2 separate regions of the Homo sapiens genome follow, and region 1 is linked to region 2. Evidence: fine-mapped expression QTL. A gene starts in region 2. The other region holds a variant in brackets. All regions are shown on one strand. Distances are between the middles of the regions. Region 1 overlaps CDC73 (cell division cycle 73). Region 2 holds the start of GLRX2 (glutaredoxin 2).

Region 1 (5,246 bases), 150 kb after region 2:
CTGTAAAGGAAAAAGTTCTATTTCTATATTTATAGGACATTCTTCTCAGTCAAGGAACAGTAAGAAATATGTAGGTTTCAATCAGTTGCTCTCAACCCTGACTGCATTTTAGAATCATTTGGAGAGTTTTTAAAAATATCCATGCCTGAATCTTGATTCCCATTTTCATGTAATTTGAGACAAGACCTGGTCATCAGTATTTTTTTTAAAGTTCTCCAGGTAATTTGAATGTGCAGGAAGGATTCAGAATCACTGGTTTAATTTGTTATTGAAAACAGTACCAGTATTAAATGTGTTTCCTCTTCCTTCTTTTCTGTATGTATGTGTGGTTTTTGATTTTTTGTTGTTGTTGTTGTTTTGTGGCCACCCTTTGCACTAGACCATCCCTTTTATTGGTGGTATTGGCCTATATTCCCATTGACAAATGCAATTTTTAATTATTTATTTAATATAGGAGTATTTTACTGTTTAATATTTAAACAATGTTTAATGTATTTCATTATTAACTAGTATTATAGTTTGTTTTTTTCCCATGTCTCCATAACTTTTACTAACATTTGTTTTTAGCAGCACAACAGTAATCCATATAAAAACAACTAATTCATAATGAGGAAAATCTCATAATTTTTAAGGCAGAAAGAAGTATTAATTTTTGATCTGCCATGTAGAATGAGACAAATACAGTTTGCTTATGAAAGGAAAGTGGCATACTTTTAAATTGGTCTACACAGAAAAGTAAAAGTAAACTATTCATTTAAATAAGATTCATTATCTAATAAATATTGAGGGAATATTTTTCCTAAATAAAAATTTTTCTGACTGCTAACAAAAATTAAAGTGATTACATTGTTCTTTTTTGGAGGGGTGGGGAGGAATATTTGTTGAACTAAAGTATATAAAATTTTTTGAGACTAGCAGTATATTTTATAATATTACAAATACAACAATTATTTATAAAAGCTAGTCAAATTAATGGCTTAGAAAGTAGCTGTAAACTTTGTGTTTTGAAATTGCTTGTTTAAATGCAAAATTATGAGTAAGATAAGTCTTTTTAAATTTTTTATTTTTAATTTTTTTGGAAGTTTATTAAAGCCCTTCATATACACATACTTTTTAAAAAAAGATTCTTAATAAAGAAATTATTGGTTTGTCTGGTTAAAGTCCATATAGAATGCTGAGAAATAATTTATAAAATAAGAACTATAGAAATTTGTTCTCAGCTGAAAAGTTGGCAGCTGCTCTGTTTCTTTAAAAAAGTACAACATGAAAATTTAATTACATTAGCCTTAATATTACTTGACTGAATTTCTACTATTTATTCACTTGTGTTTGAGATTCACCCAGCTATTCTAATGATAGAAATAAAAAGTGGAGAAATGACTAAAGTTGACTTAAGTTAAGAATTGGAGTGGGAATTTTGAAATGCCATGTCCTATATATTCTGGCATATTTGTTGGCACATTTGCAAGTATGTTGATCCCAGCATTGTTTATATCTGTTGGAATAATAACTAAGGAAAAATTGAAAATGTATAATAGATGTATAAAGATTTATATTTAGTTAGTATATAATAGATAATACTTGCAGGTTTTTTATGTGTTTTGGGTTTCTGTGTATTATTTTAGGTAATCTTTATAAGGGCATCTTGGAAGTTATAAATATGTGCCATTTACTGAAAAGTGGGAAGCATTTTTATATGAGTAAAGCTAATGAAATAAAACTAGTTTTATTGCCAAAATTCAAAAAGTGGGGTTCATGCTATGTCGAATTTAAGCAAATGATCTGTCTGAGGATTTTGTTTGCCATTGAATTCCATTTCTGTCCACTTTAAATTTACTAAAAGCTATTTAACCTGAGTTTGATTATAATGCTTCATAAGTAATGCAGTTCATGTACATAGAGTAAGTGCTGTAAGTGATTTTTTAACCACCAGTTGGTGCTGTTTCTCAAAGTGGTTCTTAATTAGAGTTTAAGTTTGGGTGCCATGTGAACTCATAAAATATTCTACTCATTCTTTTTGTTTTTCTTTGTTTTGTTTTCTTTGTTTTATTTTTCATTCTGTTTGTTTTTCTTTGTTTGTTTTTGAGATGGAGTCTCACTCTGTCACCCAGGCTGGAGTGCAGTGCTGCGATCTTGGCTCACTGCAGCCTCCACCTCCTGGGTTCATGCAGTTCTCCTGCCTCAGCCTCCCGAGTAGCTGGGATTATGGGTG[T/C]GCACCACCACACCTGGCTATATTTGTATTTTTTAGTGGAGACAGAGTTTCACCATGTTAGCCAGGCTGGTCTTGAACTCCTGACCTCAGGTGATCCACCTGCCTCGGCTTCCCAAAATGTTGGGATTACAGGCGTGAGCCACCATGCCTGGCCTGTTCTGTTCATTCTGATTCCAGTTTGGTGGGCTCTTAAATTTTAGGTTCAATTGTAAATAAAACATGTTGCCCTATTTTGTTTTAAGAGCACTAGGGACATTTCCATTCTCCCTTTGTCCTCAATCCCCCAAAAACATTCATACGAAGAAGTTAGAAGCTGTATTGTGGGCTGGAATGCTATCTTTACATGAAAAGATTATTGGGATTTGTCAGGCATAGTATTTCTCTGAGGAATAAATGAAATATAAATTTCACTTTGGAAACTAATGAGTTAAAACCATTTACAGTTTCTGTTAACGAGTTAAATAATGTATAGAATCATAGTTCGTAATGGTAGCAAGTTCATGCTCTGCTGAACTTACTGTTTGATTATGGTCAAATTTTCTATGTTATTATTATAGTAGAATTAAGAGTGTGTCCTGGTAAATTACATTACCTTCACAGTTTGAGCATTCTGATTTTAACATTTTGTAGTTTCAAAACAAACTGTACTCATATAATCAGAGCATTAACAGCAGCATCATGTCAGTGGTACCAATAATTGTGAATCTTCTGCAACAAAATTTCTTTAATGATGAGTTTAATGGGCTATATTCAAACCTAATTTTTATTCAATTCATAAGTGCCCACTAAATATGTATTTTATTTCTGCTGTTCTGTTCCTTTGATTATCTGCTTTTCAGTGAGCATCTGCATAGCTAAAATAGATATAGCATGTGTTGTAAATGCTGTTGAATTTTTTTAAGGCTCAAAGGTGCTAGTATATAAATAACAGCACATTGCCAAATAAGCATTTTTTCTTTCATTTTCTGAAGTACTTTCATATTTACTCATGTAATTATCAGCATTTATGGTGAGTTGGAATAATTTTTCCTCTTTATTTTCTTAAATGACCCTAGAAAACAATGTAAAGTAGCTCTGAAGAAGGCTTTGTTGTTGAATCTGTCTCATAATTACTTGTGGATCCTTTGACACAGAATTATTTATAGTTTATAATTCACCCTCATCTAGAGAATGATGATTTCTATTACATAAGTAATGTAAATAGAGCTGAGACCATAGTGAAGCAGAAGACATTTGGGAGATACTTTTGATTACATTTGGATATTTTATTGGACTATGATTATTTTGCCAACAAAGTACAAGTCAAAACATTGGGTTATACAACATATTCACTTTAATAAAATATAGTAATGGATACTCACAGAAGAACTGCCTTCATGGAGTTCACAATGTTAATACTCTAAGTGTAATGGCCATCTATTTCTCTCTTTTTAATAATACAAACATTTTTCTTTAAAATGGAATAGTTTGAAAGTGTTTATCGAGTCAGTGTAAATGGGGGGAGATCAAGTGAACTTCCTTGTGGCTCATTCAGTTGTTTTAGCACAATTAAGCATCACTAATGTTTTTAAAGGGCTTGACTATATCACAATTTTAAAATATTTATATTTTTAGATAATATATTTTTATTCCATAATGCACTACTGAGGACAAAAAGGAAGTGTAAGGGTCACTGATGATGAAATAAATTTGAGATGCATTAAAGTAGTTTAAGGCTAAAGCAGTTTGATGTAGGAATTTGAGGAGAAGACGACTTCAGCTTAATGGGAAAATACTAATTTGGACAGCGTTATATGCTTCTGGGGTTGTCATGAATTTAAGAAAAGCTAGGCAAACCTAGTGTGATTTTTCTCCAGTGACATTTAGTTGCTTGATTTCAGGTATAGAGAATTGCAGTTAGATTTTTAAGCTATTTTGATGGCAGTAGAAGCAGGCCAGGGAGTTGGAGATATTTTCAAGGTAATAATTGTAGTACTGAAACATGGAATCTAAGCTGTTCAAGGAATACATGATAGAGGGAAGGTGGTGAATGGTGAGAAAGTGGTGCTGTCCTGTGAACTGATAACAACAATGAAGTGAGCCTGAAAGATAGGGGGAGGTGGTCAGAGGATGGGATGTGTGAAGTCAAGACTTCAGAGGTGATCTGATATTGATGAGAAAAAGTCAAGACCTTGGAAGTAACTGAGATAGAGAGGGTGAGGTATTCATTAAAATGAGGAGTCAAGGATCTATGGGGCTGCAATTACTCGTGTAAGTGTTGAAATGAGAATGACAAGCATAGGAGTGAGAAGAAAGATGGCAACAAGGAGAAGGTAACCGGTGACTGGTTGGCATTAGCTTTACAGGATCCATGCTTTAAAAACTTTGATTAGATATTTAAAGATGAATATTTAAAGATGAAAATATATTTAAAGATGAATTAATAAAATGTTAAAGGTATAGATCATTTCAGTGCCTTTCTCCAACATCCAAATTGTTAAAGAATTACATACTTGTCCCATTAGCCCAGATGATGAAGACTTTTACTAAGACACTATTGACAGCCTTCCCACCCTCTGAGTCTTGTTTTCTAAGTTTGCTCTCATGTGAGGCTAGTTCTTGTATTCTTTGCTACTTTTGTCGCTTAATGATACTGAAAGTGGTTAAAACCTTTGTTGGAAAATCTGAGCTATGCCCTCTAAGGTTTCATTAAGTGCTGGGGTCACTTGCCCCAGTTGGGGGGTCACTTCCCCCAGTTGTATGTGCAATTCATTACTAAGAGAGAATATCCTGAGCAGTTCCCAATGGTGGGTGGCTGGCTAAAAGGAATCCCTGGAGATTTTAGTGTGGTAGGAAAGCATTTTCATTCTTGAGGATTTTTCTTTGACTTTTCTATGGGCTGGCTGATTTCCTCAGTTTGCTTTGTTCTGGGTTTTAGGGGAGAATTCTTGGGAGGTTGTGAATTTTCTTTGCCTACAGTGAGATGGTTAGATGCTATTCTGAACTTTATCTAGATCTTACCCAAATCCATTTCCATGTTAGCAAGCATGAAGTT
Region 2 (5,246 bases):
TGCAGTGGCGTGATCTTGGCTCACTGCAATCTCCGCTTCCCAGGTTCAAACAATTCTCCTGCCTCAGACTCCCGAGTCACTGACACTACAGGTATGTACCACCACACCTGGCTAATTTTTTGTATTTTTAGTAGAGATGGGGTTTCACCATGTTGACCATGCTGGTCTCGAACTCCTGACCTCATATGATCAACCTACCTCGGCCTCCCAAAGTGCTGGGATTACAGGTGTAAGCCACCGCGCCTGGCCTGAAATACTAGTCTTATTTTAAGTGAATCCACTCTAATAGCTTTTTCCAGTACATCTTATCCTTGGATAATGAACATCTGCCCTACACAGTAGTCCCCCTTTATCCACGGTTTCAGTTATCCAAGGTCAGCTGTGGTCCAAAAACATTACATGGAAAATTTCAGAAGAAAATAGTTCGTAAGTTTTAAGTAGCATGATGAAATCTTGAGCCATCTAGCTTCCTCCTACCCAGGGTATGAATCCTCCCTTTGTCCAGCATATGGACTCTGTATAAGCTCCCCACGCTTTAGTCAACAGCTGTCTTGGTGACCAGATCGACTGTCACAGTGTGGTGATGCTTGTGTTCAAGTAACCCTTATTTTACTTAATAATGGCTCCAACAAGAGTGAAACTCCGTCTTAAATAATAATAATAATAATGGCTCCAAACCACTAGAGTAGTGATGCTGGCAATTCAGGTACGTCAAAGAGAAGCCCTAAAGTGCTTCCTTTAAGTGAAACGGTGAAAGTTCTCCACCTAATAGGAAAAAAAAAATCACACGCTGAGGTTGCTAAGGTCTATGGTAAGAACGGATCTTCTATCAGTGCAGTTGTAAAGAAGTAAAAAATTCATGGCAGTTTTGATGTCACACCTCAAACTGCAAGTTACAGCCACAAGGTATAAGTGCTTAGTTAAGCCAGAAAAGGTATTAAATTTGTGGAGACAAGAACAGAAAAAGTGTTCCAACTGACAGCAATGTGTTATGCCAAAAAGCACTGGGCCTATGAGAAGATTCAGCAAGGGATTCCTTGAAATGAGCATTTTGTTATTAAAGTGATTGTTCTTTTATTATTGTTGTTAATCTCTTACTCTGCCTAATTTATAAATTAAACTTTATCATAGGCAAGTATGTATAGGAAAATAGCATGTATAGGGTTCAGTACTATCCGAGGTTTTAGGCATCCACCGAGGGTCTTGGAACGTGTCCACCACGGATAAGGGGGAACGATTATGATATCAGCTCACCTAGAGTGAGGAAGCTACAGCAAACATCAGTTTGTTCAGTTATAACAAAGAAGAGTAAGAGACAGGAATTAAACATTATAACATTATAACCTACCCAATGTTTACAATCTATTATTCCTTGCTTCCTAATAGTATTAGCAAGGAACACTTTAAAACAAAAAAAAAAGTCCTGTGCGCTTAACTCAGGAAGGAGTTAAGGGTAGCGAGCTAGGGAGACTGCAGCCAACCTGAGAGGAGGGTGAAGCTTTAAGATAAAAGAAAGTTGAGTTCCTGAAGCCTAAACCAGAAAAGGTTAGGCAGCACTGGCCTAGCCCTAAGGAAGAGCATTGGTGGAATAAATCAGCAAGCTGTATTTGGTTTATCAACTAAGAAAGCAAGTCCTTTCATCTCAGGTCCAGCACTTAAACTGTCATACCCAAACCATCTACTACAGCATTTACTACTGAAGGAGCTCCAATAGAACACAAGAGAATGTTTTCTTGGGTAGTGAGAGGAGGTAGGAGGTGCATTCTGAAATATTACCCAAATAAAAGTTTCTGGAAGACACCCTTTCCCTTCAATTTCTAGTTGACCTTGGTAAAAACTGTCGCGAACTATGAATAGAAACATGCACGGAGGAAGTAAGTGCACAATAAACATTTCATTTCAACACAGATGAAGCACCTAGTCATGCCACATTTATGGAGCGCCTACTGTGTGCTAAGTAGGCAAAGTGCTATATTGACCCCAGGGATACGCAGAAAAAAACACGGCGGGGCCTCAAAGAGCTGTCAAACACTTAACAGCCTGTGATTAGCCCTTCAGGAGGGGTCTCTAGCTTGGTCTGGAAAGTTAAACTTGAGATTCCTAGAATCTTGCAAAACTGATAGAAGCTCCCAGATCAAGTAGATAGCGAGACAGACTCTCCGGCCAAGTGCGCAGTGGCAGGCGCGGAAGTGCGAGCCGGCAGGACCGCCAGGCACCAGCCGCGCGGGCGTGGGCAGCACAGCCGCAGTTCCCTTCCACTGCAGGTCCCGAAGCCGCTGATATTCCAAACGAGGAAGTGTAAGGAAAGCACTATCCTCGGTCTAGCCGCAGGCGGCATCACCATCAGTCAGCCTCTATCCTAAAAGCTCTGGCCATTCAGCGGGAATCATCGCCTTCACTTCCTGCAGTAGGGTGGCTAAGTTTAGCAAACAAGAATGCAGGACGCCCGGTCAAATTAGAATTGTAACCAAACACCAGAAAACTGTTCCGTTTTTCCTATGTCCACTGCAGTATTTGGGACACACTTGGACTAAGAATCATTCGCTCTTTCAGAGAAATTCCAATTGATTGCGGCGTCTTGTATTTTATGTAGCAATTCACAGAGGGATGGCCTAAGTGAACATGAGTGAAGTATTTTCAACGCGAGAGTCACAGGCTCCTGAAGTCAGCACAGCCGCGGAGGGCACCCTTCCCTGCCCATCCCTCGAGCGCCTCTGCGTGTTATGACTCAGAGCCCACGCGCTAGTACGCCTCGCCCACCCGGCGCCGGGGCAAAGGGGCACCTCCGCCCACCGCTTTCTCCAGACCCCCGCAAGGCCTGCGCACCACGCCGCGGCACTCCTGCCCGCTGACCCCGTACCCAGAGGCCGCAGCTGCCGCAGCTCCCGCAGCTCCCGCCGCCCTGTCAAGCCAGCCTGCCGAGCCGCTCCTGCTCCAAACCAGCCGCGTCCCCGCCAGCGCCGCGCGGCGCCAAATCATGGTCAGAGCCCGGATCTGCAGCGAGCTCTACTGCCGGACACCGCGGATCCCGGGAGCCCGCCTCCTCCGGCCCGGCCCCCGCCTTGCCCCGCCCCGTCCCGCCCCTCCGGACTGCCCGCGCCGCCGCCGGTCACCTCCTCGCAGCTGAGCGCGTCCTCCCAGGGCTGCCCGAGCGCTGGATTCCAGCGAGTGCCACCCACGTGTAAACATCCTTTAGAGGGGAGAAGCGGCTCACTTGCTTATCTCGAGGGTTCATCCGAGCCCCGCCTCTGGATTCTTTTAGGTTTAGGGACGCTCATAAAGGCTCCCAGGCACTTGGAAGCAGTGCATGAGGATGGTGGCAGACATGCTGGGGAAACGGAGGAGAAAAAACATGACCATCCAAAACAGAATCAAAGTGGTGCCTCAGATGTTTCCAACTACCTGTTACACAAGTTTTTGTGTGGATGAAATAAGAGCCTAAATATATCCTCTTATAATTAGGCAATTGGTCGAGACCCAATGTAAATTATGGGGATATTGGGGTTTACATCCATAATTAAAAGAAAAAATCCGGTGTTGAAGGTTTACTCCAAAGAAGACAAAGATTATTTCCCACCACCTGCCAAAAAAAAAAAATTAGGAAACAAAACAAAAGAAATTAGCACAGAGATGTTTCACCATGGCTTTGGAAATGGGCGATTGCTGTTGACAGGATTATTTAAGCCACTCAGTGGTGGTAATAATAGCCTTTGTGCGTCACTATTTAAGGTTGGGGGTAAGCCTTTATTTACTGAGGACACTGAAATTCATCTTAAAGTCAAAGGTCAAATGGTACATCTAAAATTCTAAACAATTATTACAACAATCCAGAGCTTTTTTGATTCTTCATGTTCAACTAAGTGTAAAATTCATGTTACCAAAGTACAAAATAAGAACTTGTATTTCTGACAGTTCTTTTCCAACATTCAAATGGGCTATGTTTGATTACTTAATAAAAGGATGGAAGTTAGTTGCAAAAATAAATACCCCCAAAGGGTAGGAATTCATTCTTTTTAAAGACAAATTTGACTTTGAAAATTAAGGCATGTGGCCAGGCGCGATGGCCTGTCCTGTAATGTGGCCATTACAGGACTGCCCGCTGACCCCGTACCCAGAGGCCGCAGCTGCCGCAGCTCCCGCAGTGGCCAGTCCTGTAATCCCAGCACTTTAGGAAGCCGAGGCGGGCGGGTCACCTGAGGTTGGGGGTTCAAGACCAGCCCCTCCAATATTGGTGAAACGCCGTCTCTACTAAAAATACAAAATTAGCCGGGCGTGGTGGCGCATGCCCGTAATCCCAGCTACTCGGGAGGCTGAGGCAGGAGAATCGCTTGAATCCATGAGGCAGAGTTTGCAGTGAGCCAAGATCACACGATTGCACTCCAGCCTGGGCAACAAGAGCAAAACTCCGTCTCATAAAAAAATAAATAAATAAAATAAAATAAAAATTAAGGTATGTTATCTATCTATAGTGTTGTGGGCTTTTTAATTTTTTTATAAAACTATTTTGGAAATTTATGGTGTTATGTTAGTTTTGAAGTCAAATTTTACCTCATCTCAAATTGTTTTATGAAATAAAGATCATTATGAGGTGAACCGATCATGTTACAATTTAATTTTAATACAGCATAGATGGACTATTATCAAGCACAGAATTCACTGGACAGATTTTTTTAAGGATTTCAGAATGTAAAGTACTTCAGAAGAAAGTGTTATGCCTGAATTCAGCATAATATATTAATAAATATATTGATAATTTTCAACTTCTTTGTGCTTCGTGGGGTAGCTACAGAAGTGATTATTATTTTTGGTCATAGTTGTGATGACTGCAATAGCAAGTTAAGAAATATGTCAGCAGACAGTAGAACGGTGGTTGCCAGGGCCTGGGAGAAGGTGGAAATGGGGAGATGTTGGTCAAAGGGTACAGAGTTTCAATTATGCGAGATAGGTAAGTTCTAGAGAGCTAAAGTACAGCAATGTGACTATAGTTAGGAAAATCGCAATGTATGCTTGAAATTTGCTAAGAGGGTAGATCTTGTGTTCTCACACTTGCACACAAGAAAGAAAATGGGGCCAGGTGCGGTGGCTCACGCCTGTAATCCCAGCACTTTGGGAAGCTGAGATGGGTGGATCAACTGAGGTCAGGAGTTCAAGACCAGCCTGGCCAATATGATGAAACCCCATCTCAACTGAAAATACAAAAATTAGCCGAGCATGGTAGCACGCGCCTGTAATCCCAGCTACTCGGG

Evidence for each region. PIP is the estimated chance that this variant, and not a neighbour inherited with it, causes the effect. A credible set is the group of variants that fine-mapping cannot tell apart.
Region 1: its variant is the best candidate, but not a certain one, in a credible set for the expression of GLRX2 in whole blood (TOPMed, PIP 0.63).

Annotation. Positions count from the first base shown.
Region 1 is chr1:193,253,070-193,258,315 of GRCh38, forward strand. CDC73 (cell division cycle 73) reads left to right here. Exons shown (of 17, transcript NM_024529.5): 17 at 1-1,746. Among named protein-coding and RNA genes, the nearest start is that of LINC01031, 49 kb to the right of the region's middle. The variant T/C (reference allele first, on the strand shown) is at 2,213.
Region 2 is chr1:193,102,404-193,107,649 of GRCh38, forward strand. It overlaps GLRX2 (glutaredoxin 2), which reads right to left and starts at 3,011. Exons shown (of 4, transcript NM_197962.3): 1 at 2,861-3,011. The coding sequence starts at 2,979. RefSeq lists silencers at 2,800-2,899, 2,876-3,170, 2,950-3,189.